Linked DNA regions of Homo sapiens. The protein of the gene in region 2 purifies or fractionates together with the protein of the main gene of each other region. This does not show direct contact. Each region holds a gene or a part of one and is shown on either strand. Other genes may lie near its edges.

Region 1 (3,462 bases), on a different chromosome or scaffold from region 2:
GTGGGGGTCTTTGGGAGTCATGAGGCCTCATGGATGGGATCAGTGCCCTTACAGAAAGGACTCCAGAGAGCACCCTGGCCTCATCCATCATCTGAGGACACACAGGGAGAAGGCGCCATCTAGAAGCCAGGAACTGGGTACTCACCAGAGACTGAATCTACCATACCTTGGTTTTCTGGGACCTCCAGCCTCCAGAGCTGAGACATGAGATCATACAAATGCTCTCAGAGAGGGTACAGTAAGTGCAGGTGCCCTGGGGTCCTCCAGCATTTATCAGGGAGCCCGGCTACACTTCTGCCAGCCTTGGTTTCTACCCCCCGCCTCTTCCCAGCTGTGACCCTGCCCTCTGTGCCCCAGGGGTGCTGGGGAGGAGGCAGCACTGCAGACCAGGAACGTGGGCCAGCCACGGGCAGAGCGTGGCCCCATCTGCGTCCCGTGGGCCCAGCGCCCATCTCCAGACCCCAGGCCGCCCTGTGGAGAGGTGCGTGGCCAGGCAGGAGGACCTCTGCGTCCTCTGTTTATTGTTTTGCAGCAGGAGGCCCAACATAGAACATACTCGCCAGTACTCGGCTGTGCAAAACAGGGGCTAGCGCTGAAGTACAAATGGGAAAACGTGATTCTTTTGTTTTAAATAAATACTTAGAACACGACTTGGCTCCTACAAGCATCTGGACTCTAGGTCTCAGTACTGGAGTGTCTCACCCATGGGCCCCACGCAGGGACGCCACGGTTCCCTCCCACCCCGTGATCAAGACACGGAATCGGCTGCCGATGGTTGGATCGCAATGCGCCCCTTTTCTAGAGCCTTCCCCGGCCATCTACAGGCAGGATGCGGCTGGGAAAAAGACAACTGGAATTTCTCGAAGGTTGATGGTCCGCACGGTTGAGGATTCTACGTGGTTCTCTTGGTTCCCCTGGTGTGTGTGTGTGTGTGGAGGAGGCCGCGGCCCTTAGATCACCTTCTTGAGCTCGTCGTACAGGACCAGCACGAAGGCGCCCCCCATGCCCCGCAGGACGTTGGACCACGCACCCTTGAAGAAGGCCTTGCCCCCCTCATCTCTGAAGATCTTCCTCCAACAGTCGACGGTGCCCGTGTACATGATGTCAGCTGCAACGACAGGGAGACAGTGAGGGCCTCGCCGCCAAGCTCTTCAAGACACGGACGCCACCTGCACCCACAAAGACGTTTCACAGAAATAACACCCCAGACGCCTGAGCCACAGTTCTGATTACAGGAGGGATACCTGAGGCTCCCCCAGCTCAAGCCCTCCTCCTAAGCCACTGTCTCAGGGAGGGCTGGACACAGGACTTCAGGCCCCGCCCTGGGTGTCCCCCATCTCCACCCCGGGGTCCATGCAGAGAAGGCAGGATCGAGGGTGTGGGTGCAACCAGAGGTTCTAGGAGGCGGGGATTTAGAAACTGCCGCCCGGACCATGAAACCCCAAAAAGATCAGAAGCCCATCGTTCAGGAAAATCCTTCCACACAGCCAGGTTACTTTCGGACACACTTGCTTGTCTCACACGCCCTGGAAGTGCCTCCTTTGATGGTTCCTGACCTCCCACGGGCCTAGGGCAAGGAGCTTGGTTCCCCTTCCCGGCAGCAAGGGTCCCCCGCCCCCCCGAGTACCTCCTTTGCGCCCGGACTGCATCATCATGCGCCGCCGCACCGTGTCGAAGGGGTAGGACACCACGCCGGCCACGGCCGTCACGGTCTGCGCGATCATCCAGCTCACCACGATGTGCGTGTTCTTGGGGTCGGGGAGCATGCCTGCGCGGGAACGGCACGTCACCGTCTCCAGCGCCTGCACGGCCACCCGAGACCAGGGTCGGCCCCCAGGGTGTGCTCACGGCCCCCTGAGGTGGTGCCGAGCTCTTCCGAGACCACCAGTGCCCCCTCCACGTGGCTGCTCAGTGCCAGCTGACGTTTACAACACGAGAGGTCGGGGCAGGGCCAGAGGGGAAAAGGCCGCCTGCCACCTACCGGAGCCCAGCAAGACAGTCCCAGAGGCCGGGGTTAGGCCTGTTTGGGGAAGGGAATAGGGCCCTGACCTTCTGAAGGGTCACCGTTACTATGGGAGTTACACTCTGTCCTCAAAATCCACATGCTGAAGTCCCACCCCCACCCCAGGACCTCAGGATGCAACTGTACTTGGATATAAGGTCTTGAAAGAGGTAAGACTAAAGGAGGCCAGTAGGGTGGGCCCTGATCCTACGACCCCAGTGTCCTTCTAAAAAGAGATGAGGACACAGACACACGGAGGGATGACCCTGTGAGGACACAGGGAGAAGACGGTGTCTACAAGCCAAAAAGAGAGGCCTCAGAAGGAACCAGCCCTGCCCACTCCTTGATGTCAGACTTCCAGCCTCCAGGACTCCGGGAGAATCAATGTCTGCTGTTTATAAGCCACCCAGTCTATAGTATTGTTTTAGGAGCCTGAAATGGACTAAGACACCTCATAAGAAGAGCAGATAAGGACACAGACACACACAGAGGGATGACCCTGTGAGGACACAGGGAGAAGACGGCGTCTACAAGCCCAGGAGAGAGGCCTCAGGAGGAACCAGCCCTGCCCCACACCTTGATCTCAGACTTCCAGACTCCAGGATTATGGAAGAATCAATGTCTGTTGTTTACAGTCCACCCACTCTATGGTATTCTGTGATAGCAGCCTCAAATGGACTAAGACATCTCATCAGAAGAGGACACGAGGACACAGACACACACAGAGGGACGACCCTGTGAGGACACAGGGAAGACGGAGTCTCCAAGCCCAGGAGAGAGGCCTCAGGAGGAACCAGCCCTGCCCACACCTGGATCTCAGACTTCCAGCCTCCAGGACTGTGGGAGAATCAATGTCTGTTGTTTCTAAGTCACCCAGTCTATGGTGTTCTGGGATGGCAGCCTGAAATGGACTAAGACATCTCATAACAAGAGATGAGGACACAGACACACACACAGGAAAAAGCCTGAGAAGACAGCATCTCCAAGCCCAGGAGAGAGGCCTCAGGAGGAACCAGCCCTGCCCATGCCTTGGTCTCAGACCTTCAGCCTGCAGGACTGTGGGAGAATCAATGTCTGCTGTTTACAATCCACCCAGTCTATGGTATTCTGTGATAGCAGCCTGAAATGGATTAAGACATCTCATAACAAGAGGAGATGAGGACACAGACACACACAGAGGGACGACCCCGTGAGGGCACAGGGAGAAGACGGCATCTACAAGCCTAGGAGAGAGGCCGCAGGAGGAACCAGCCCTGCCCACACCTGGATCTCAGACCTCCAGCCTCCAGGACTGTAGGAAAATCAATGTCTGTTGTTTATAGTCACCCAGTCTATGGTATTCTGTGATAGCAGCCTGAAATGGATTAAGACATCCCATAAGAAGAGAGGATGAGGACACAGACACACACAGAGGGATGATGCTGTGAGGGCACAGGGAGAAGACGGCGTCTCCAAGTCCA
Region 2 (4,283 bases):
TCACCTGAGGTCAGGAGTTCGAGACCAGCCTTACCAACATGGTGAAAGCCCATCTGTACTAAAAATACAAAAAAAATTAGCTGGGCATGGTGGCGCACGCCTGTAATTCCAGCTACTCGGGAGGCTGAGGCAGGAAAATAGCTTGAACCCAGGAGGCAGAGGTTGCAGTGAGCTGAGGCTGCACTACTGTACTCCAATCTTGGCAACAGAGTGAGACTCCATCTCAAAAAAATAAATAAAATGAGTGAAAATTTTTAATAATTGGCTATTCATGGCAACTGAGAAATAGATTTGGTGAAATATATGTTGAAACCACAATAGGACAGAGTTCTAGGATGGAAGAAGAAAATAATGCAATATACTTCAATTCAACTTAAAAGGCTTGGCTGTATAAGAGACAAGAGTTAGGGACCATTTAAAATTACAGCCAATAAGGTAGAACACTTCTATGAAACAGTACATATCAAAAACAATAGGGAAAATATAATACACAGTATCAGCTCTCTAGGTGCAACTGCTTAGAAATCTGTGTTCTTATTATAAGCTCTTTGGGAATAACGATACTGATTTTTTCAATAGTACCTGAACACATGGTAGGTTCTTAACATCTGTTGAACCAATGTAAAGTTTATTACTTTAGATCCTAAGAAATTCAAGACTTGAAATAAATAAGCACATTACCCATATGAAATTGTTTTGGTCATTTAATAATATATAATGTTTTGGCGGGGCGCGATGGCTCACGCCTGTAATCCCAGCACTTTGGGAGGCCGAGATGGGCGGATCACTTGAGGTCAGCAGTTCGAGACTAGCCTGGCCAACATGGTGAAACCCCGTCTCTACTGAAAATACAAAAAAATTAGCCAGGCATGGTGGCATGCACCACCCCTGGTAGTCCCAGCCACTTGGGAGGCTGAGGCAGGAGAATCGCTTGAACCTGGGAGGTGGCGGTTGCAGTGAGCTGAGATCGCGCCACTGCACTCCAGCCTAGATGACAGAGTGAGACTCCATCTCAAAAAAAAAAAAAATATATATATATATATGTATATATAGTCTTTTGCTTTATTTTTTTTTTTTTGAGGCGGAGTCTCACTCTGTCATCTAGGCTGGAGTGCAGTGGTGCGATCTCAGCTCACTGCAACCTCAGCCTCCCAGGCTCAAGCAATTCACGTTCCTCAGCCTCCTGAGTAGCTGGGATTTACAGGTGTGCACCATCACGCCCAGCTAATTTTTGTATGTTTAGTAGAGACAGGGTTTCACCATGTTGGCCAAACTGGTCTCAAACTCCTGACCTCAGGTCATCCACCTGCTTTGGCCTCCCAGAGTGCTGGGATTACAGACATGAGCCACCATGCCCGGCCTATTTTTGCTTTTTGTGATTGTGTATCCCTTTATATATTATATACTATAAATTCTGATAGTTTCTATTTTGTGAATCAGTAGCCATTTATAGTAGATGTAAATTCCATTAAAAGAATGCAAGTAAAAATATTCATATGTATCGATAATTCAAATTAGGTATTTTTCTCCCGTTATCATGCACGGATAAGCTGACACACTTGTTTATATGTCTCTATGACATTTTCTAGATAGTTTAGATTTGGCATGTGTTTTAATCTCTCCAGTAGCCACTAAACTGCTCTGAGACAAGTATCTGTATCTTATAATTTTTTTGTTTCAAGGAAAAAAAAAGACAAGTGCATTTGAGTTGGTAATTCCAAGAATGGCAGCAGAAGACAGAGCATCTAAAGCAGGAGGCTTGGACCAAAGTGGTTCTGTTGCCTGTAATCCCAGCACTTTGGGAGGCCAAGGCAGGAGGAACTCTTGAACCTGGAAGTTCAAGACCAGCCTGAGCAACATGGCGAGACGACCCCAAAACCCAATCGTCTCTACAAAAAAATTCAAAAATTAAAATAAATAAATAAAGTCGTTTTGTTAACCATTTCTGGGCCATGATAATCGGATGAAACTAAATCCTGAACTAATTTCCCGGGCGCTCTTGGGCTCTGGGCTAAGAACTCCTGAGAGTATGGTCAGTGGTCTGCTGCTGCCTGGAAGCTCCCGGTAAAGGAATGAAACTTCAGGGCAGACAGCATTCACTTCAGGAATGGTCAAGGAAAGCTAAATTCGATCTCACTAGACAGCAGCCCGTGTAAGGTTTGATCCCCTTGGAAGGCCCTTTCCTCTGCTAGAGCTGAAAGCCCTGTCTCCCTCGTTTTCTTTTGCTACGGGATCCAGAGAAAACACCAAAGGGCACTTACTGAGAAGCTGAAAAAAAAAAAAAAAAAAAGCAAACTGGAAAAGAGAAGACACAACAGCTCTGATGCGAGGGAGGCCTCGGCCCCGCCCCCTCCCGCCCCGGGAGAACCTTGGCCGAGCCTGCAGCGCCCGTAATCCCCACCGCACCTGCTGCGGGAGGGCCCGCGGCAGCTGTCTCGCTGAGGCTAGGGGGCGGGGGGCAAGGGCACGAAACGCAAGGACGTGCGGTGTCACTTTCTGCACGGGCTCTAAACAGATCGCAGCAATCCCGGTAGGTCCGGTACTGAAAGAGAATCACGCAATTTGCGCTGGGGGGCCTCAGACGCGGACCAACCCCCTCTTCGATCTGCCTTCTAAGGCCCGGAAATAAGTCTCAGCCTCGAGAACTAGAGCACTTCGACCAGGGAGTAGAGGAAGCGTTATTGGGCGTGGTACCCTGGGTTAGGAAACCTGGCTGTAGACCCACTCCAAGGACCGCACTCACCGAATTGCTGGGCTGAGGTGGGGGTTGAAAGCCGCTGTCAAGGCGTGACCCGGAAGCAGAAGCTGTCGGGGGCAGGCCCTCTGTTTACCGGACTAGAAGACCAACTAAGATGGGCGCCTGCGCACTGATGAGTGTTCGTCAGCGGGGCGCGCCTGCGCAGACTTGTGCAGCAGCTTTCGCCCTCCAGAGGCCTAGTTAGGGGGTTACTTTCTCCTTTTACTCAGAGGCTTTGCGCGCAGGCTCAGTGCAGCGTTCTCGGCCACAGCCGCAGGGTTCGGGTCTTGGTCCTGCAGCGGGGATAAAAAAGCTCAGGAACCCTGAGTGTTGGGCCGATTCTATATGGTTGCACCTGCGTGGACCAGGCCAGCAGGGGTCCATCCACAATGGTTCAGTTGCTTAGGAGACTAAACTCTTAGTAGGAAGTGTCTTTGACAAAAATACTTACAGCATTATTCATAATGGTGGAACGAATCTATGCTCCTTAGAACCCTCCTGTACATGTCCACCCTCCTTCAAGTAAACCATATCAAAGACAAACTCAACCACCCAAGAGGTGTAGTATTCTAAATGTAGAGGAATAAATGACCTTTATAACTCTTATTAGGGTTAATGAAACTTCCCGCACAAAAACATGATGACACCTCTGAGTGACAGACTTTCTGTGCAAAGCATAAACATTTTGAAGTCAGCAGCACATGGTGGTGGTGCATGGAAGGAGTGAAGCAGCAGCCCATTTAGGCAGACTGCAAGAGTTGTGGTCTGCCCGGTAGCCTGTTTAACCAGAGTGCCCCACACCTACTCCCCAGAGCTTGTTCTAAGCAACCAAATCTAACCAATTAGAGATTTAAAGCAGGCCCAGACAGATCATGTACATCAGTAAGAGGATGGTAAACTGAAAGTTCATGACCTGGTCTGAGGAGTGGGCCTCCTTTGAGCTCCAGACTCAAAGGAATTTTGCCAGGTAGGAATATGCCCTCCACTTCCTGCCACTGCACCATGGTGAGATCGTCCATTTTTCAAAAGAAGCTGAAATACAGATTTTTTTTAAAAAGTGAATTTTTCCAAGTTGCAAATGTTGGCAATGTTTTTATTATTATTATTATTATTATTATTATTATCATCATCATTATTTATTTTTGAGATGTAGTTTCGCTCTTCTCACCCAGGCTGGAGTGCAATGGCGTGATCTCGGCTGGCTGCAACCTCAGCCTTCCGGGTTCAAGTGATTCTCCTGCCTCAGCCTCCTGAGTAACTGAGACTACAGTCACCTGCCACCACACCTGGCTAATTTTTTTTTTGTATTTTTATTAGAGATGGGGTTTCACCATGTTGGCCAGGCTGGTCTCAAACTCCTGACCTCAGGTGATCCACCCTCCTCGGCCTCCCAAAGTGCTGGGATTACAGGCATGAGTCACCACACTGGACCACATCTCTCAAATTTCTTGGTTGGGAAATGCTGAAGTATATAAATTCTGGGAAACCATCAGCATCTTACAAATGTAAGAATGAGCGGAGTCTCCCAGGGAGTGATAAAATAGGC
Region 3 (3,989 bases), on a different chromosome or scaffold from region 2:
TCGCCCTGTCACCCAGGCTGGAGTGCAGTGGCACAGTCGCAGCTCACTGCAACCTTCGCCTTCCAGGTTTAAGCGATTCTCCTGCCTCAGCTTCCCAAGTAGCTGGGATTACAGGTGCCCGCCACCACAACCAGCTAATTTTTGTATTTTTAGTAGAGACAAGGTTTTGCCATGTTGGCCAGACTAGTCTCGAACTCCTGACCTCAGGTGATCTGCCTGCCTTGGCCTCCCAAAGGCGTGAGCCACTGTGCCCAGCCCCCAAACATTTAATTTGTGTAGTAACACTGAATAATTCTAATGTTCTTTCAAGCTGGTTAAAAAGATTCTGAGGGGATAAAAGAGATTCAAGAGCCTGTTACATCTTTTGTTACAATTTTTAAGGTGATTATATCATTCTTAAGTTTCCCCCCATTATTTACTGTAGCCCAGATTTCCTTATTATTTTTTAAGACATATACAAGCCATTATAAGATGTATTTAAAATGGACAGATACATAAAATTTATCTTAAAATGCATATTTTATTTCAGTAGTCAATGACCATCAATCAAATAAAGGAAAGAAAACTAATTTCTTGAAGAAAGACAAATCTATGGAGTGGTTTACAGGAAGTGAAGAATGAGATGGCCCAACTAAACCAATTTGGAATCATTAACTACAAAATGTCAAACTAACTGCAAGACAAGTGTCAAAATGGGATGTTTAAGCAGTTTTGCTATGTTATACATCTTTTAGTTGTTATTTTCAAAATTATATGTATAAGTTATATAAGTCATAGTAATAGCTAAAAATGCCAATCTATGGAAGCAGTGATTTTCAATATAAAGTTCTATTTTGATATTTTTCCATCTTCAAGTCAGTTACTGTCATCTGGAGTACTCAGTTAAGTTGTGGTTTGACCTTCCTCAACTTGACAAGAAAAGCTAATTTAAGAGAAGAAAAACATAAAGTCATTATATTAATTAAAAGAAAAAACACCATTTAATATGTTCTGAAAACATTACTCACCTGTATGACCAGGTTGCCAGTGTACTGGTCTAGCAACATAGGGAAATGATCCATATGGAAAATCAGAATGCGATTCTTCTGTTGTAAAAAAATATATGTACTATAAGCTACATAAAATATTTTCTATTTTTTTCACAAAACTGTTAAAATATGAGTTACTCTCTTTATTGTAAGTTTTTTCTTTATTTATTTCCTTGCATATGTTTTAGAGCTACTCTGCCAGTTATTATACAGAAACTATTTGTCAATGATTATGTAATAAACATATGATTTTATAACCAAATGGATAAGCCTATATCATAAATCAACTGATACTTGAAAACTTGTTCATGGCCTAAATAATGTGTATATATGACAAAGACCTAAACTCAGTTCTTTCAAGAATTCCAGCAGCATCTTAGAAGTTGCTTTTTGGAATATTAGCTATTTGCCTATCAGGTCCCATTAATAATCAGTGATCTAAATATAAAACATCCTTAATACATTTAAATTATTTCACAAACCAAGCTCCTTGTGACAAGTAAAATATGAATATTATAAAAAGCTCAATTCTTCAAAGGTATCAGAGTTTTAAGTAAAAGGCAGGAAAAGTCATTATTCTGTGCCTTATACATCTTAACAGAATAAATATCACACTTTTCTATAGAAAATTGCTGAGGAATATTTTTATAATCTATTGGTCAGTATACTCAGGAACTCATTCTCCATTCATTACTGCATGCATAAAGTAAAACTGAAGCTCACCATGGTCATCCTCTTGAAACAGCTCACCTTTAACTCCAATTTTCTCTTGAGAATCTAGTTGTACATCTGTGTTGATTTTAGATTCTACTTTTTGAGCTAAAATTCCATTTTTCTGTTTTGCAAGGCAAACCAACCAATCTCTGACAATGACCTCGCTTATCTTTTCACATGAAAGAGCAAGTTCACAGGTGCGAATTCCATCTAAAAGTTCAATAACCTGTGTGATGCTTTCAGAAAAGTGAAAAATTTACATTTCTACTAAAATAATAACATTATATTTATTTAAGTTCCCTATACCTCTTGCCCACATTTAAATACCATAGTTAAATTAAGGCAGGAGAGGGTTTAAATATGCAAGTTAGGAGGCATAAAAAGTACCTTCACAAAATTCTAAGTAAACAAACACAGAGACCATAATTTAACATTACTGTTCACATTATACTTTTAAAACATTTCTTCCAGATTGTCAGAAGAAAATATGCATCTTATATTACTATTTATGTAAAAAATGATTTAAACAGTAATATAGGGTTGGGCGTGGGTCACGCCTGTAATCCCAGCACTTTGGGAGGCTGAGGGGGGCAGATCACTTGAGGTCAGGAGTTCCAGACCAGCCTGGCCAACATGGTGAAACCCTGTCTCCACTAAAATACAAAAATTAGCCGGGTGTGGTGGCGCATACCTGTAATCCCAGCTACTCAGGAGGCTGAGGCAGGAGAATCACTTGAACCCAGGAGGCGGAGGTTGCAGCGAGCTGAGATCATGACACTGCACCCCAGCCTGGGTGACAAAGCGAGACTCTGTCTCAAAAAAAAAAAAAAAAAAAAAAACGAAAAAAGTTTAAAAAAAAAAAACACTAAATAAATATACAGTAATATAAATGAACTTGGGACTTGTCATTTTAAAACAGTTGTATAAGATGCCATATACACTTTATTCAGTTACAAAATGAATATTTTGGCTGGGCGTGGTGGCTCAAGCCTGTAAGCCCAGCACCTTGGGAGACCAGGTGAGCAGATCACCTGAAGTCAGGAGTTCAAGACCAGCCTGGCCAACATGGTGAAACCCCTTCTCTACCAAAAATAGAAAAAATCAGCCGGGCGTGGTGGCGGGCGCCTGTAACCCCAGCTACTTGGGAGGCTGAGGCAGGATAATTGCTTGAACAGGGGAGGTGGAGGTTGCAGTGAGCTGAGATCATACCACTACACTCCAACCTGGGTGACAGAGTTTTTTTCTGTCTCAAAAAAAAAAAAAAAAAAAAAAAAATTTAGTTTGATACTTAAGCAAAAGTGCACTTAAAAGTTACATTACAAAGAAAAACAGTTATATTACTCACTTTACTACATATACAGCACATACACCACCATGCTTAAGATGTGGGTAAAAAACAGGCAAAGTAACATGAGGATTTAACATATCCAAAGCTACCTGTGTGGGGGAAAAAGAGAACTGGATCAGTCTGATTCCGTTTAAATAAAGCATAAGTTTTCTTATTGTGGTGAAATGACACACTTTTGGACAGCAATCAAAGTATTTCATTTTTTAGAAGGTAGTATTATTAACTATCATTTTACCACTCCCAAAAGGGTATGTTAATTATTATACAGTTGGGCAATGTGGCTTCTGCCTGTAATCCCAACACTTTGGGAGGCTGAGGCAAGAGGATCCATTTGAGGCCGAGTTTGAGAACAGCCCAGGCAACATAGCGAGACTCTGACTCTATTGAAAAAAAAAAAAAGTAGCTGGATGCAGTGGCACAAGCCCGTAGTACCAGCTATTCAGGAAGCTGAGGTGGGAGGGTCACTGGAGCCTAGGAGTTCGAGGCTGTAGTGACCTATGACTGTGCCATCATACTCCACCCTGGGCAAGAGTGAGATCCTGTCTCAGGGAAGAAAAAACAATTTGTCATAGTACTTGATGATACTGAAAAATCATAATGATATGTCTTGTACTTTGCATATTAATATGGAAATATTGATTTGGCTATGTATGTATATATGAATATAACCAAAGAAAGATTCCTGTATGCCTGTATTATCAATATTGCCAAGTGTAAAACACGCCATTACAACATGAAAAATTTAAACATTTGAGACAATGTGAATTTCCTTTTTTTTTTTTTGAGACAGGGTCTCGCTCTGTTGACCAGGCTGGAGTACAGTGGCACAATGTCACCTCGCTGCAACTTCCACCTCCTGAACTCAAGCAACCCTCCCACCTCAGCCTCTCGAGTAGCTG
Region 4 (3,500 bases), on a different chromosome or scaffold from region 2:
CCTTGCCCATCATAACTTACTGTCATGTGCCACCCAAGACTCCAATTAACAAGTCTGTGGGCTTTATATATTAATTATTCTGGAGTACGTGCCTTTTGATAGGAGATTCTTAAAAATGACAAAGACTGACTGGGTGTGGTGGCTCACGCCTGTAATCCCAGCACTTTGGGAGGCTGAGACGGGCGGATCACTTGAGGTCAGGAGTTCGAGACCAGCCTGGTCAACATGGTAAAACCTTGTCTCTACCAAAGATAGAAAAATTAGCCAGGCACGGTGGTGCACGCTTGTAATCCCAGCTACTCAGGAGGCTGAAGCAGGAGAATCACTTGAACATAGGAAGCAGAGGTTGCAGTTTGGCAAGATCACGCCATTGCACTCCAGCCTGGGCGATAGAGTAAGACTGTCTCAAAAAAAGGAAAAAAAGAAATGGCAAAGACTTTCTCCAAAATCACGCATTTCAGGCATCATGGTGTGTGTGGCGGGGGGCACTGCAGGCCCTGTGGCAGGTGTGCAAACATGACTGTCCACAAATATGTTTGGGGTGGAGGTGGAGGAAGGGCCTCGCCATTCCACTTTCAATGGGACAATCTGTGCGTTATCCCACATCCCTGAGAGAGGCTGCCAGGGTCTTGCAGGCCACCAACCTCACAGGAGGGGCTTCTGAAGCCACCAGGTCATGAGGGTAGGTACCCTCACCTGATCCCTCAACAGGCTGTAAACCGTCCACAGGATCCTTGGTTGTTGAACAGAGGGGCAGGGGTGAGGGAATGGACGGCGAAGAGCCAGGCTGCCCCCAGAGCGAGCAGGTGCGGGTCATGCTGCCACCTGCATCCGGGCCCTCGCCTTTCCACCCTGCTGAGCGCCAAGGGATTCACGGCCCTAAGCCTGATGACGGCACGCAGTAGGGCAGTTTCTCACAGAGAAACCCTCCGCGGTGATGTCCCCGGCGGAGCCCCGCGGGGTGCCGGGCCGTGGGAAAGGAGAGGCCAGGCCTGGACGCCCCCTCCCCAGGGCACGGGACACCCTGGCAGTGGGGTTTGGGCAGTTCGCCCACCTGCAAGGAGAGGCCAGGCCTGGACGCCCCCTCCCCAGGGCACGGGACACCCTGGCAGTGGGGTTTGGGCAGCTCGCCCACCTGCCGCCCTCCTCACCCGCGTCCCTGCGCCCAGCCGCCTACCTGGATTGGAGCGTTTCTTCGGGGTCTTGAGGCTCCGGCACCTGCCGCCCACGGAGCTGCTGTTCTCGCTCGTGGAGTCCTGCGCCGAGGACGCGCTGCCGGTGGCCTCGCTGTCCCGCATCACGCTCTCGTAGCCGCTGCTGCCGCCGCTGTGGTAGAACAGGGCCGTCTTCCCCATGGCCGGCGGGAGCTCCCCGCTCAGCACGCTGCTGTTGTCGCTGCCGTGGCCGCTGCTGCAGCGGTGGGGCCTCCGCGGGGGCGTGATCTTGCTGTAGGGCGACGGGAGCAGGTGCGCGGCCGCGGGCTCGTCCTCGGCCAGGGCCCCCCCGCGCGCCTCCGCCTCGGGCCCGGCCCGCAGCTGCAAGCCCCGGGCGCCCGCGCCACCCTGCAGCAGCTCCGAGATGCGCCCGCTGACGGCCCGCAGGGGAAGCTTGGAGGCCAGGCCCGAGCTCCTGTTCCTGCTGAGGGACTGCGTGGACCAGGGCGTGTGCTTCCCACCGGGGGGCGAGCTGGAGCCCTGGCCCACCGCCTGCGGCAGGGACTTGGTGGAGAAGCTGAGGGTTTTGGTGGTGGAGGCGGACGGGCCGCGCGCTCTGGGGCTGGCCAGGAGGAGTCTGCTCACGGCGGAGATCTTGGACTGGCCGGCCTTGGGCGAGGCCCCGGAGCTGGGGGGCGAGGTCCCGGCGCTGCGGCCCAGGCTCCTCCCCGCGCGGGGCATGGTGCCGTCCTTGCCCGCGTGCAGCCGGGAGCTCACGGAGGACAGGCTCTCGGCCCGCTCCAGGGAGAGGCATTCGTAGTGGCTGACTGTCGCCCTGCCCAGCGAGTTGCTTCTGCTGGCCAGCTGCTCCAGCTTGGCACTGAAGAGCTTGCTGCTGCTGCTGGCGTCCTTCGTCTTGCCGCTAGGCTCGTCTGGGAGGCCCGCCGGGAAGGCGGCTGGTTGGTTCAGGGGGCTGCTGGTGCCGCTGCCGCTGGCACTGTGCTGAGGGCTGGCCCGGTTCTTCTGGTCCAGGCTGGACTTTCGGACAGGGGGCAGAGGGGGAGTCCCTTTGGGCCGAGCCAGAACACAGTGCTTGGGGGAAGCCACCTTCCCCTCCAGGGTAGCCTTGGAGGGCGGGGTGCCCGAGGCTGCACCCACCCCGTTGGTCTCAGCAGCGCAGTAATAGGAGAGGCTGTCCGGCTCCTCCTGCCGGCTGGCCTTCTGAAAGGCCCTGGGAAGGCTGCTGGACTTGACGCTTTTGTTGGGATGCACGGGGCTCTGGGTGGCCAAACCGGGCAGGGCCATCTCACACCCATCCACGACCCTCCTGAAGTTGTCAGTGACCGGGGAGGCCGACACCTCTCCGCTGCTGCTGCTGAGCCTGTCTCCCGGACTGGGCTTTCCGTCCTGCTCCTGCTCTGCTCTGGTCTCAGCATTCGAGGGGCCCGTGGCAGTCTCACACCTCATCATCCCTTCTTCATTGGGATGAGCCGTCTCTTTTTTCACTTCCTCTTCTCGTTTCAGCCACGGGTCCTCAAATTTCATCTCTTTCTTTGCACTGTTTTCCTTACTCTCCCGGGACTGGGCTAATGTGGGGCCTGCTTTGGGGGTGGCGGTGGGGGCCTCCGGCTCTTGGATGTTCCGGGGGCTCATGGCAATGCAGGGGTAAACTGTGATATTGGTCTTCATGGGGATGTACCCCTCGCAGCTGCTCAGATTGGCCGTGTTGGAGATGGTGACCATGGCCTTGCTCACTGTGGATATTTTGCAGCCTTTGATGGGGGCTGCTTTGTTGAAAGAGTCATCTCCCATCTCAGACAGGATGAGCAAGTTGTCGGGGCTGGCCTTGGGCTTCTCTCTGCACACCACAGCGGTGTTCTGGAGGCTGCTGACAAACTCCGAGGCCACAGGTTCTGCCATTGCCTCCCCGTGCCCAAAACACGTCTGGGCTATGAAACTGTGGCACGACTGCTCACCCTCACTGCCCGCGCTCATCTCGCTCAGCCAGGAGCTGATGGAAGAGCGTCTGCTCCCTGCGTCCTGGGCCTTCTCATCCAGGCTCATCTTCGGGAGGGGCAAGAACTGTGTGATGCTGACCTCGGAGACGGGGGCCGTGCTGGAGTAGCACTCCAGGTCCTCGCTGATGCTGCTGATGATGCTGACGGGCCGCGAGCCCGAGGCCAGGGCCCGTGCAGAGCAGTCGCTGTTGAAGCTGATGATGCTGGTGGGGCGGCCGCTGTCCAGGACCCCGCTGATGGTCAGCTCCTCCACCAGCGTGAACACCAGCTCGTCCTCACCGTTCAGCTCCAGTGGCTGCTGCACCGTCACCATCGTGGTGCTCAGGAT
Region 5 (3,379 bases), on a different chromosome or scaffold from region 2:
AGATACTCCTTCAGTAATATAAATGGAAGCGTGTAGTATGCAGATTTACACCCCCCTTCCAACTCACTGTAACTTTAAAGCTGTCTGTTAGAAGGATGAAATGTAGTTGTGAGCCAGACCATGTTGGTTTGGACAGAAATTCTTACAGAATTATTAAGCCTTAAAAAAAGCAAAGGAGATTTATGCATCTGCATTTGACCAATTTGGTTTGGAATAAGTTCATAATGGAAAAGTAATAAAACCATAAGAGACAGTGTCTTCTGAGTACAGTCTCGCTTTTAAAAAATCTAAACATGCACTGCCCTATTTTGGATACAGTGACTGTAGAAAAATTTCCCATTGGTAACTTTGGGAGGGTTTTCTGTTGTTGTTGTTGTTCCTTTTTCATTGATTATCAGCCAGTATAAATTTTAAGCTTTCTGTCAAATATTTTTCTGGAGATGTCAGTCTTAGGGAAAAGAAATCCTAAAGTGTTATCTGTAGGAGTCTCCTTCTCCCAATTTCACCCCCTCCCCGAAACCTCCACCTCCCACCCCCCAACACACATAGTGTTTTTTAGATATCAGTAAAGTCTTTTTCTGGTGTAACTGGAGAGGTTGGGGTTTGGAGAGTAGGGGGTGGTTGAATGTGTGAGAGAAAGCACCTCCTGTGACTGCCAGCAGCCACAGAAGACCATGAAGAGGAAACGCATAACAAGCTTCACCTCTGAAAAATCGGACCTAATAACTTCGCAAGTTTTTGATTTCAACAGGAAAGAAAAAGAAAAGAAAACCGCTTTCTCCACTTATTCTCAACCACTTGAAGTAGTGTTATTGATAAACAATTTCTTAAAAATATTTAAAGATTTAGGAATAGAAACAAAGGAAATGAAGGCTGAGTGATTTGGGCAAGGGAAGGTGTGAGTCTGGTGGGGAGGGGTGTAGGAGCAGACATCTTGCACACAGGAGAGGCATGGTTGCATTTCCCATAGAGGACAGCAAAATAGGCATTTTATTGAATCGGATTTTTAACTTTCTTTCCACGGCCAGCAGTTCAAAGCACAGTTATTTTTATATAGTGAGAATGTGACCAGACTGAGATGGTGTTGTGTCTCTCCTGCAGGTATGCCTGCAGCATCTTTAGTGACCCCTGCTGATGTTATCAAGACGAGATTACAGGTGGCTGCCCGGGCTGGCCAAACCACTTACAGCGGAGTGATAGACTGCTTTAGAAAGATACTGCGTGAAGAAGGACCAAAAGCTCTGTGGAAGGGAGCTGGTGGTATGGAAATAATGTGTTCTTAACTAACTCTTTGGTATCAGGTAAATTTTTAAAATATCTAATTATATCTGTGATTTCTCCATTTTTTTAAAGCTCGTGTATTTCGATCCTCACCCCAGTTTGGTGTAACTTTGCTGACTTACGAATTGCTACAGCGATGGTTCTACATTGATTTTGGAGGAGTGTAAGTATCATGCTAAATCTGCTGCTAAATTTTGGCTGCTGCTAATGCTCTGTTGTCGTAGGGAAAGGTACCTCAGTCTAGTCTCTATAATAAAATAGAAGAGATTTAGGGAAATGTTGAAATTGTGTTAACAAGGTCATTTCCAAGGGGAACATACAACTGATGAGAATGTATCAACTCCTTTACATTAAATATTTGAACAGGTTTTGAATGTTATTTTTATCAAGTTAAAACAAACAAAAAATACAGCTTCTTACTCTGTTTTCTCTTCTTTTAGAAAACCCATGGGATCAGAGCCAGTTCCTAAATCCAGGATCAACCTGCCTGCCCCGAATCCTGATCACGTTGGGGGCTACAAACTGGCAGTTGCTACATTTGCAGGGATTGAAAACAAATTTGGACTTTACCTACCTCTCTTCAAGCCATCAGTATCTACCTCAAAGGCTATTGGTGGAGGCCCATAGGAAGATCAGCCCTGGGATAGTGCTGTCTTTTTGTGGGTACTGCAGTAAAGAACATCCCTCCTGGGAATGAAGCAATGCTTCATCCCTTTTACGTCCATCTCTTGTTTAAATTCAAGTCCAGGCTTTTTTATCATGTGAAATCATTCATTTTCTGGGTGTTTTCTTAACCAGATCATTGTGAAATTATTCATAATTATTATTTGGCCCTCTGCCCAGAAACCTTTGTTTGCATCTGAAAATTGATGGGATTTGGTCAACACTAACATGATTTGGGGAAAGGAGCAAGTCAGAATAGAAATTAGTACTCCCCTCCTTGAACTAGGATTGTAGTCCCAAAGAGGCTACTGTAAGGCAATCATGGTGCTCAGAGCAGTGTTTCGTGTGTGTTTTAAACTGGTAGGAAACTAGGTGCATATTTATAAAAATAAAAAACACTGGGAGAAATGAAAAAATATATATCAAATATATTCAGCCTGGCTTCAAATTGTAAGCATGCACAAATTCTGTCTCTGGATTATATTATGAAGCTTTTATGTGAAACATGTTTCTTTGTAATGAAAACCACATTGGAGATGTTTAGTAATCATATTGTTACTGGTACCAAGACTACTAGGGAAATGCCTTTGTACTTTAGGGAAGTACTTTTGGCATTTTACTGTACAGACAGAAAAAACTGAGATGTAGCCCCTCTCCTGGAAGTGCTAATTTTGAAAAACTGCTCATATGATGTACATGTACTGATTACTGCCTATTTTAATAAACACTCTTGAAAAATGCATGTTGCCCTGTTGCTGCCTGCCCTATTCTCCTCATCTCCCCATCATTGGTACCCACTTGCTTTTAAAATCCACTTTATCTTGAATAATGTAAGACAAATATGTTCTGACATAAGTATTTAATTCATGTTGCCTTGCATAATGGTCAGAGGCGCATGAATTTGTGAAGGTGGAAATAAACTATTTGTAAAGTGATTGAGTTGTTTGGTCTTGTGCATGTTGCATGGTGAGTGGATACAGTAATTGTCATTATTGGCCTACATGTTTTGTTTTGAGGGGAATTTTATTCATATTGGCATGGATATATCCTCAGTATCTTTCAAGGTAATGTGTTCCCTCATTTTCATGGTTCAAAGTGAGTACAAGAAACTGTATTTAACCATAGATAAGCAAAGAACTAGCAAACTGACACCTTAGTTCTAGTCATTCCAGCACTTTCGGCAGTTTATTGTGATGATGAAGGTCACATAGTTTTAGTAGAACTTAGCCATGAAAACTGGTATGAAATGGCAGTCGTATTTTCTAATCCAGTCTGACTCTTGCACACACCAAAACCATATACCACTGTATCTAACATTTGCTATTATTTGGCTAGCACTATAATGATTTGGGGAAAGAAGCTAGTCTTGAACAGGATTTAAGGCTATTCTTAGACCGTGATCATGCTTCCAAAGAGGCTACTAATTAATCTGTTG
Region 6 (3,500 bases), on a different chromosome or scaffold from region 2:
AAAAGTTGTGTGTGTATGTGTGTGTGTATTGAGAGTGCGCTTATGTTGTAAAGAATATTAAAATACTGCTTTATTTTTGTTGCCTTAGCTAAAAAAACTTTTCTCGGACAAAATAAATCCTTCTGGGGGCCTCTAGAACTGGTAGAAAAGCTTGTTCCAGAAGCCGCAGAGATAACAGCAAGTGTTAAAGATCTTCCAGGACTTAAGTAAGTCTAAGGTTGAATTCCATTTCTCAGGAACAGCATTCTTATTAACTATCCCTTGAAGAGCAAGACTAAAGACAATTATGTACGAATAATTTATTTTATAACAATCCAAAATGCATGATGTCATGAATAGGTGCTGACAGGAGAGAATTGGTATACAGAATATTGAGAAAAATGTGCTCTTGAGGGATAATTATTCATCTAAGAGAGATTGTCTTTTTGTTGAAATGCCAAACATTTGCTTATTTTTTAAAGCACTTGGGAGAATCATATCTAAGGGGGTGGCATGCTGTACTTGACTTAGGGAAAAAAGGTATTCAGTGGGTTTGAGAGTCAAGATTAAAACAGCTGTCAAATTAACCTGAAGAGCTAGTGACTGTAGCCTGCCTTAGAACTATAAAGTAGTGACCACCTTCCCAAATGAGACTGGTTTAATTTTAATCAGACAGAGGCCTAGATTGCCTGTGTCCACATTCATGCTTTGGACATTTATATAATCCACACTGAATTTATAAGGATTTGCTATTATTGATCTGATGGAACATTTTTAGTTGGGTCTCCCAGAGGCTGTGTCTTCAAATTGTAGTTACATTCAGTAATTCTTTTTGAAAGCATTTGTTCCGGGTCACATTAGCCCACACACAAAAATTCCTTGCATGGGAATGTACTGGGAGAGGTCCTGAGGAGCACCTCAGTGTGCTTGTTACACTGGAATACCATTAGCAAGAATAAGTGAACTGATTCTACTGTAGCCTTTGCTTCTGGTGCTTATGTTTTCAGTTGTTTGATTTCTGTGTTTTTGTAGGACACCAGTAGGTAGAGGAAGAGCCTGGCTTCGTTTGGCATTAATGCAAAAGAAACTTTCAGAATATATGAAAGCTTTGATCAATAAGAAAGAACTTCTCAGGTATGAACACCTTCTTGAACTTTCTTCTTTCCTTGGTATGTTCTACATCGTATAAAGTCAAACCATATAAGTTCACTATTTTTGTAGATCAGAAACATTTGATTCATAACAGCTTCACTGATACTTTCTCTCATACCTCACACACATATCCTCCCAAATGGATGATTTATGTTATGTGTGTTCTGTCTGTCACTGTGGCATATATTGGTCCTTTCCAAGGCAGGCCAAGACTTACCTCTAGAAAACAGAAGGCACCTTAGCATGTGCCCAGGCTCAATAAGACAAGAACTTGACATGTAGCATTAAATTCAAATATAGCACAAAATTGGACGGGTGCAGTGGTTCACGCCTGTAATCCCAGCATTTCGGGAGGCCAAGGTGGGCAGACCACTTGAGGCCAGGAGTCTGAGACCAGCCTGGTCAATATGTCGAAACCCTATCTCTACTAAAAAAATATAAAAATTAGCCGGGCGTGGCGGTGGACACCTGTAATCCCAGCTACTTGGGCGGCTGAGGCACGAGAATCGCTTGGACCTGGGAAGTAGAAGCTGCAGTGATCCGAGAGCGTGCCACCACTCTTCAGCCCGGGCGACAGAGTGAGACTCTGTCTCAAAAAAAAAAAAAAAAAATGTGTATATATATATATATATTTGTAAAATCACAAAATCTTCCAGTAGATCATAGATACAACTGGGAGAGGCAAAACAACATTATTTTATCCGTCTTTATTATATGATTCCATTGTATAAAGGTCAAAACTAGGTAAAATCAATCTATGGTGATAGAAATCAGGATAATAGTTACCTTGAAGAGGTGGGGGTAGAGATTGGAAGAGAGAAAGAATCCGATTTCTAGGATTTCAGTACTGTTCTCTTTCCTGATCATGATAGTGATTACACAGATAGATGTGTTTTTTGTGAAAGTTCATGGAACTAACAGTTAGCTGAGATTTGGAAATGTGTGAATGTTGGAATTCAGCCATATTCCACTTCTGAACAGTTCATAAGGTTAGGCTTTTGGGACAATAAACTGTCAAAGAACCTTGTTCATTCCAGTTCTACTCAGTTTCCTTCAGAGGCTATCAAAGAACAAAAATAGCATGTGATCAGTTTTTGAGAGAAACAGTAAATTTGCAGCTCATTCACTTGCTGTTTTTGTGCTATTTTGTCATTTGTTAATATCTTTTTTTTTTTTTTTTGAGACAGAGTCTCACTCTGTCACCAGGCTGTAGGCTGTAGTGCAGTGGCGCTATCTCCACTCACTGCCACCTCCGCCTCCCGGGTTCAAGCGATTCTCCTGCCACAGCCTCCTGAGTAGCTGGGACTACAGGCGCACACCACCACACCCAGCTAATTTTTGTATTTTTAGTAGAGACGGGGTTTCACCGTGTTGGCCAGGATGGTCTCGATCTCTTGATCTCGTGATCCACCCACCTTGGCCTCCCAAAGTGCTGGGATTACAGGCGTGAGCCCAGCCTATTAATATCTTTTATAGTGAATCAGAAAAGAAATAAGGAACTAATATCAGTGAATTATATTGATTGTTAACAGTGATTGAGGTTGACCTTTACCCCCAGGTAACTTGTTGAAAACAAATTGATTGCAGTGTTGTTTTAATCATGATGTCAAATTGACTGAAAATGAATAATTCAGGTCACTGGGTTTTCGTGTTTTGTTTTGTTTTGCTTTAAGAGACTCGCGCTCTGTCACCCAGGTTGGAGTGCAGTGGTGCAATCACGGCTCACTGCAGCTTCCACCTCCCAGGTTCAATCGATTCTCCTGCCTCAGCCTCCCGAGTAGATGGGACTATAGGCATGCACCACCACACCTGGCTAATTTTTGTATTTTTAGTACAGACAGGGTTTCACCACGTTGGCCAGGCTGGTCTTCAACTCCTGACCTCAAGTGATCCACCTGCCTCAGCCTCCCAAAGTGTGGGGTTTACAGGCGTGAGCCACCGCACCCGCCTGTTTCCATTTTTTTAAAAAATCTAAAAGACTATTTTTTAGAGTGGTTTTAAATTTATAGCAATATTGAGTAGAAGGTACAGATATTTTTCATACATACCCTTCCCCCCTGTACAACCTCCCTCATTATCAACATCCCACAGGAGTGGTACATTTGTTACAATTGATGAACCTACATTGACACATCATTATCTCCCAAAGTTCATAGTTCACATTAAGGTTTACTCTTGGTATTGTATGTTTTATGGATTTTGACAGATGTATAATGATATGTATCCATATGTCATTATAGTACCATACAAAATAGTTTCATGGCCCTAAAAAATCCTCTGTGCTCCACCTATTCATCTCTCTGTCCTCCAACCCCTAATAACCACTGATCGTACTGTGATTGTACTGTTGTTACCAGGGGTTTACTGTC
Region 7 (3,500 bases), on a different chromosome or scaffold from region 2:
AATAGCCTTAGTCTTAGTGTGGGCAAAGAAAGGTTTTCATAGCACTTGGTCTCTGAATCTGTAAAGGAAGACAGAAAGACAATTCAAGGCTGGAGGATTCCCAAGATTCTAATACATAAATCATGCCATATAGGTCAGTTATTTACAAGGGTTAAAAAGTGAGTAGGGAATGTGTAATTTACAGTCAACATCCAGCCCTGATCTTGATTGTATCCTTCCACAAAAGTAATACTGCTGATTATTATCTCCATAGCCCTAAAATAACTTCACTCCCTGTTGACTGCCCTGACTTGCTTAAATAAAGCAGCTTCAAAGCAAAAGATGAAAAAGTCCCAAACTCCATTTTAAAACATATGGCAAAACAAGACATAATTTATTTTTTTGTTTCTGTTAAAGTATAAGGAGGGAAAATAGGTAGCAAAGGTTACTGCTACCTACTTTTCAGAAAACATGTATGATATCAACAGATATGATGCTCACCCACATCAGTTCCCTCTTCAAGGACAGCCTTGTTTTGAAGTTCAGGACCTGCAACATCTGTGAAAACTCCATCTTCGTCCACTAGACAATCCTATAAAGTATCATTTTGAACAATTAAAATATCAAGACATTTTCTCTTATGACAATATCTGGCAAAACAATATATATAAAAACATCTCAGTATAGCCTGGTCTTTTTCTACATTGAAATTCTAGGTACTTGGCCGGGCGCGGCACTCAGGCCTATAATCCCAGCACTTTGGGAGGTCGAGGTGGGCAGATCACTTGAGGTCAGGAATTTGAGACTAGCCTGGCCAACATGGTGAAACCCACTTCCACTAAAAATACAAAAATTAGCCAGGCATGGTGGTGTGCACCTGTAGTCCCAGCTACTCGGGAGGCTGAGGCAGGAGAATCGCTTGAACCCTGGAGGTAGAGGTTGCAGTGAGCCGAGATCATACCACACCACTGCACTCCAGCCTGGGCGACAGAGCAAGACTCCCTCTCAAAAAAAAAAAAAAAGAAAAGAAAAGAAAAGGAAATAGGAATTTGTGAATTTTATACATTTAAATCACCAAAGCCAAAATGTGTTATTGAAGCATATCCATAAACTTTAATAACAAAAGTAACAAAATATATTAAAACATCTTTGAGTGGTCTCTATTGTTTCCAAATCTATGCCTATATACACAGTTGTTCCCTTTCTGACTCACCTTTTAACTAAACGGAAATACTTGCTAAGTAACTGAAGTATGTAAAGTAAATGTAGAAAGGACTGTTTAGCTAAAACAAACAGGCTTTTTCAGGGAATAAAAGTAATTTGTCTATGTGACTTGATACTAGAAAAAAAGTATTTTAAAAGTGCCCCATGATATATATTCTTCAATTCTAAAGTGCTAATTTTCTATTAATTCTGGGAAATCTTTTTCAATTAGTACGAATTAATGAAACTTTAGAGTACTACACAAACCTGAGCATTTCACAATTATGATGACAAAAGTCATCATTTTTAAAAAATGAAGATGTTGGTTAGAATTTATCATTTCCTTTTATTAAGATGAATAATTAAAAATGATAAAAGAGGAACAGTACCATGGGCAGGTTGTGCTGAGACGCTACACCGTAGTCTTCCATACCATGAGCTGGGGCTGTGTGAACCAATCCCGTTCCTTTTGCCATGGTCACATGATTTGCAGGTAAAAGAGGAGAGGCTTTATCAGGAATTAATGGATGACTGCAAGTACCATTTTCCAAATCTACACCTGTGGGGAAAGAAAACCACTATTAAGAATCATTTTATATGGCAAATCTATCTCCTTAAGCTTAGCAATAGAGTATCAGGTTAAATGTGCAGAATCTAGAACAATACTGGCTAGGCTTAAATTCCAGCTTCCCCTTTAACTTGTTCTGTGACCTTCTATAATCTATAAAATGCAGATAATTATGGTTCCCACCTCAGAGGGTTTCTGTGAGAATAAACAGAGTTAATGTAGTTTAAGTGTTTTGATACTTACTGCATCTACCACTTAATATTCTCCCTCACCACCCTCCCAAAATGATCTCTAAGTAATTGATAAGAAATAATTCATTTTTTTCCGGAAAGAAAACCTACCCCATACAAATTACTTCATTTTTAGCTCTTCAACATTCCTACTACTTTAATAAGTAGTAGCTACGTGACACCAGCTTATTTTGACAGGGATAATATATATACTCCTCCACAATATGGTGACTCAAATAGCAACTCAATAATTATCTGATAGTAAGAATTTGAAACAATTATGCTATCTAGACAAAAGATCTTTAAATTCAACCTTAACACTTTCAAAAATCTTGTGATTTTTAGCTTCTATGATAATGTATAACTTGACAATGAAGTCTTTAATATCCTCTGCATTTATAAAAGAGCAGGGGGCTGGGTGCAGTAGCTCATGTCTGTAATTGCAGCACTTTGGGAGGCTGTGGCAGGAAGATTGCTTGAGCCCAGGAGTTTGAAACAAGCCTGGGCAACACAGTGAGAGAGGGTGTGAAGTAAATTATTATCTTGGTTTTTATTTTTATTACCCTATTGCACCAAAGAGGACCAAATGGTCTTCAAAATTCTTAAGCTCCTTTCCTGCCTCTGACATAAAAATCTTTTTATTTTTGTTAAGGTTGTTTAAACTTCTCATTGGCTTGTATCTGAACTGATTAATTTAGAGGGCTTTCCTATTTAGCTAGGCAGTCTTTCTAGGCAGTTTTTGTATCTTTATTCATGTGATAGATTTTTTAGCAAGAAATTAAAAGATATATCATACCTAAGGATCAAAGATAATTTTAGCCCAGGCATGGTGGCTCACGTCTATAATCCTACCACTTTGGGAGGCAGAGGCAGGAGGAACACTTGAGCTCAGGAGTTCAAGATCTGCCTGGGCAACATAGTGAGACCTCATCTCTTTAAAAATAAAATAAAATAAAATAGAATTTTAGTCCAGGCACAGTGGCTCATGCCCATAATCCCAGCACTTTGGAAGACCAAAGCAGGAGGATCACTTGAGGCCAGGAGTTCAAGACCAGCCTGGGCAATGTAGCAAGACCTCATCTCTACCAAAAAAATTAAAAATTAGTCCAGCATGGTGGCACACACTTGTAGTCCCAGCTACTCAAGAGGCTGAGGCAGGAAGATCACTTGAGCCTAGGATCCAGAGGCTGCAGTGAGCCAAGATGGCACCACTGCACTCCAGCCTGGGCAACAGAGCAAGACCACGTCTCAAAACAAAATGAAGAACAACAACAACAAAAAGCTAATTTTAAACTTCCCTAGACTTCCATAATTATATTTCAAAGCAGTCACTACCTCAAAAGTCCCAAATTATAGCTCACAAAGAATTATTTTGGGCTAGGCACAGTGGCTTACGCCTTTAATCCCAGCACTTTGGCAGGCCAAGGCAGGCAGATCACTTGAGCCCAGGAATTCCAGACCAGTCTGGGCTACACAACAAGAATTCATCTCTGTAAAATATTTTTTCAAAATTAGCCGGG

Evidence for each region.
Region 1: the proteins of ASB8 (region 2) and SLC25A6 purify together in Homo sapiens (affinity purification with mass spectrometry, with the first as the bait; one large-scale study listed by BioGRID). This does not show direct contact.
Region 3: the proteins of ASB8 (region 2) and TRMT61B purify together in Homo sapiens (affinity purification with mass spectrometry; one large-scale study listed by BioGRID and IntAct). This does not show direct contact.
Region 4: the proteins of ASB8 (region 2) and KIF26B purify together in Homo sapiens (affinity purification with mass spectrometry, with the first as the bait; one large-scale study listed by BioGRID). This does not show direct contact.
Region 5: the proteins of ASB8 (region 2) and SLC25A13 purify together in Homo sapiens (affinity purification with mass spectrometry, with the first as the bait; one large-scale study listed by BioGRID). This does not show direct contact.
Region 6: the proteins of ASB8 (region 2) and RUFY3 purify together in Homo sapiens (affinity purification with mass spectrometry; one large-scale study listed by BioGRID and IntAct). This does not show direct contact.
Region 7: the proteins of ASB8 (region 2) and IARS2 purify together in Homo sapiens (affinity purification with mass spectrometry; 2 studies listed by BioGRID and IntAct, with this or other methods). This does not show direct contact.

What each region holds. Positions count from the first base shown.
Region 1 is NC_000023.11:1,385,652-1,389,113, forward strand, and holds the end of SLC25A6 (ADP/ATP translocase 3), read right to left. Parts: intron 1,769-3,462; coding exon 1,628-1,768; intron 1,109-1,627; coding exon 951-1,108; 3' UTR 501-950; downstream 1-500. UniProt on the Homo sapiens protein: ADP:ATP antiporter that mediates import of ADP into the mitochondrial matrix for ATP synthesis, and export of ATP out to fuel the cell.
Region 2 is NC_000012.12:48,154,716-48,158,998, forward strand, and holds the start of ASB8 (ankyrin repeat and SOCS box protein 8), read right to left. Parts: upstream 2,801-4,283; 5' UTR 2,744-2,800; intron 2,543-2,743; exon of another isoform or gene 2,407-2,542; intron 1-2,406. UniProt on the Homo sapiens protein: May be a substrate-recognition component of a SCF-like ECS (Elongin-Cullin-SOCS-box protein) E3 ubiquitin-protein ligase complex which mediates the ubiquitination and subsequent proteasomal degradation of target proteins.
Region 3 is NC_000002.12:28,849,321-28,853,309, forward strand, and holds the end of TRMT61B (tRNA (adenine(58)-N(1))-methyltransferase, mitochondrial precursor), read right to left. Parts: intron 3,180-3,989; coding exon 3,088-3,179; intron 1,979-3,087; coding exon 1,752-1,978; intron 1,291-1,751; exon of another isoform or gene 1,086-1,290; coding exon 1,008-1,085; exon of another isoform or gene 923-1,007; coding exon 879-922; 3' UTR 622-878; coding exon of another isoform or gene 530-621; 3' UTR 501-529; downstream 1-500. Other genes in the region: SPDYA (speedy protein A), read left to right, coding at 530-621.
Region 4 is NC_000001.11:245,686,485-245,689,984, reverse strand, and holds part of KIF26B (kinesin-like protein KIF26B), read right to left. Parts: coding exon 1,178-3,500; intron 1-1,177. UniProt on the Homo sapiens protein: Essential for embryonic kidney development. Plays an important role in the compact adhesion between mesenchymal cells adjacent to the ureteric buds, possibly by interacting with MYH10.
Region 5 is NC_000007.14:96,119,720-96,123,098, reverse strand, and holds the end of SLC25A13 (electrogenic aspartate/glutamate antiporter SLC25A13, mitochondrial), read left to right. Parts: intron 1-1,101; coding exon 1,102-1,260; intron 1,261-1,353; coding exon 1,354-1,444; intron 1,445-1,721; coding exon 1,722-1,908; 3' UTR 1,909-2,879; downstream 2,880-3,379. UniProt on the Homo sapiens protein: Mitochondrial electrogenic aspartate/glutamate antiporter that favors efflux of aspartate and entry of glutamate and proton within the mitochondria as part of the malate-aspartate shuttle.
Region 6 is NC_000004.12:70,763,464-70,766,963, forward strand, and holds part of RUFY3 (protein RUFY3), read left to right. Parts: intron 1-88; coding exon 89-206; intron 207-1,011; coding exon 1,012-1,113; intron 1,114-3,500. UniProt on the Homo sapiens protein: ARL8 effector that promotes the coupling of endolysosomes to dynein-dynactin for retrograde transport along microtubules. Acts by binding both GTP-bound ARL8 and dynein-dynactin.
Region 7 is NC_000001.11:220,104,132-220,107,631, reverse strand, and holds part of IARS2 (isoleucine--tRNA ligase, mitochondrial precursor), read right to left. Parts: intron 1,742-3,500; coding exon 1,572-1,741; intron 572-1,571; coding exon 481-571; intron 1-480.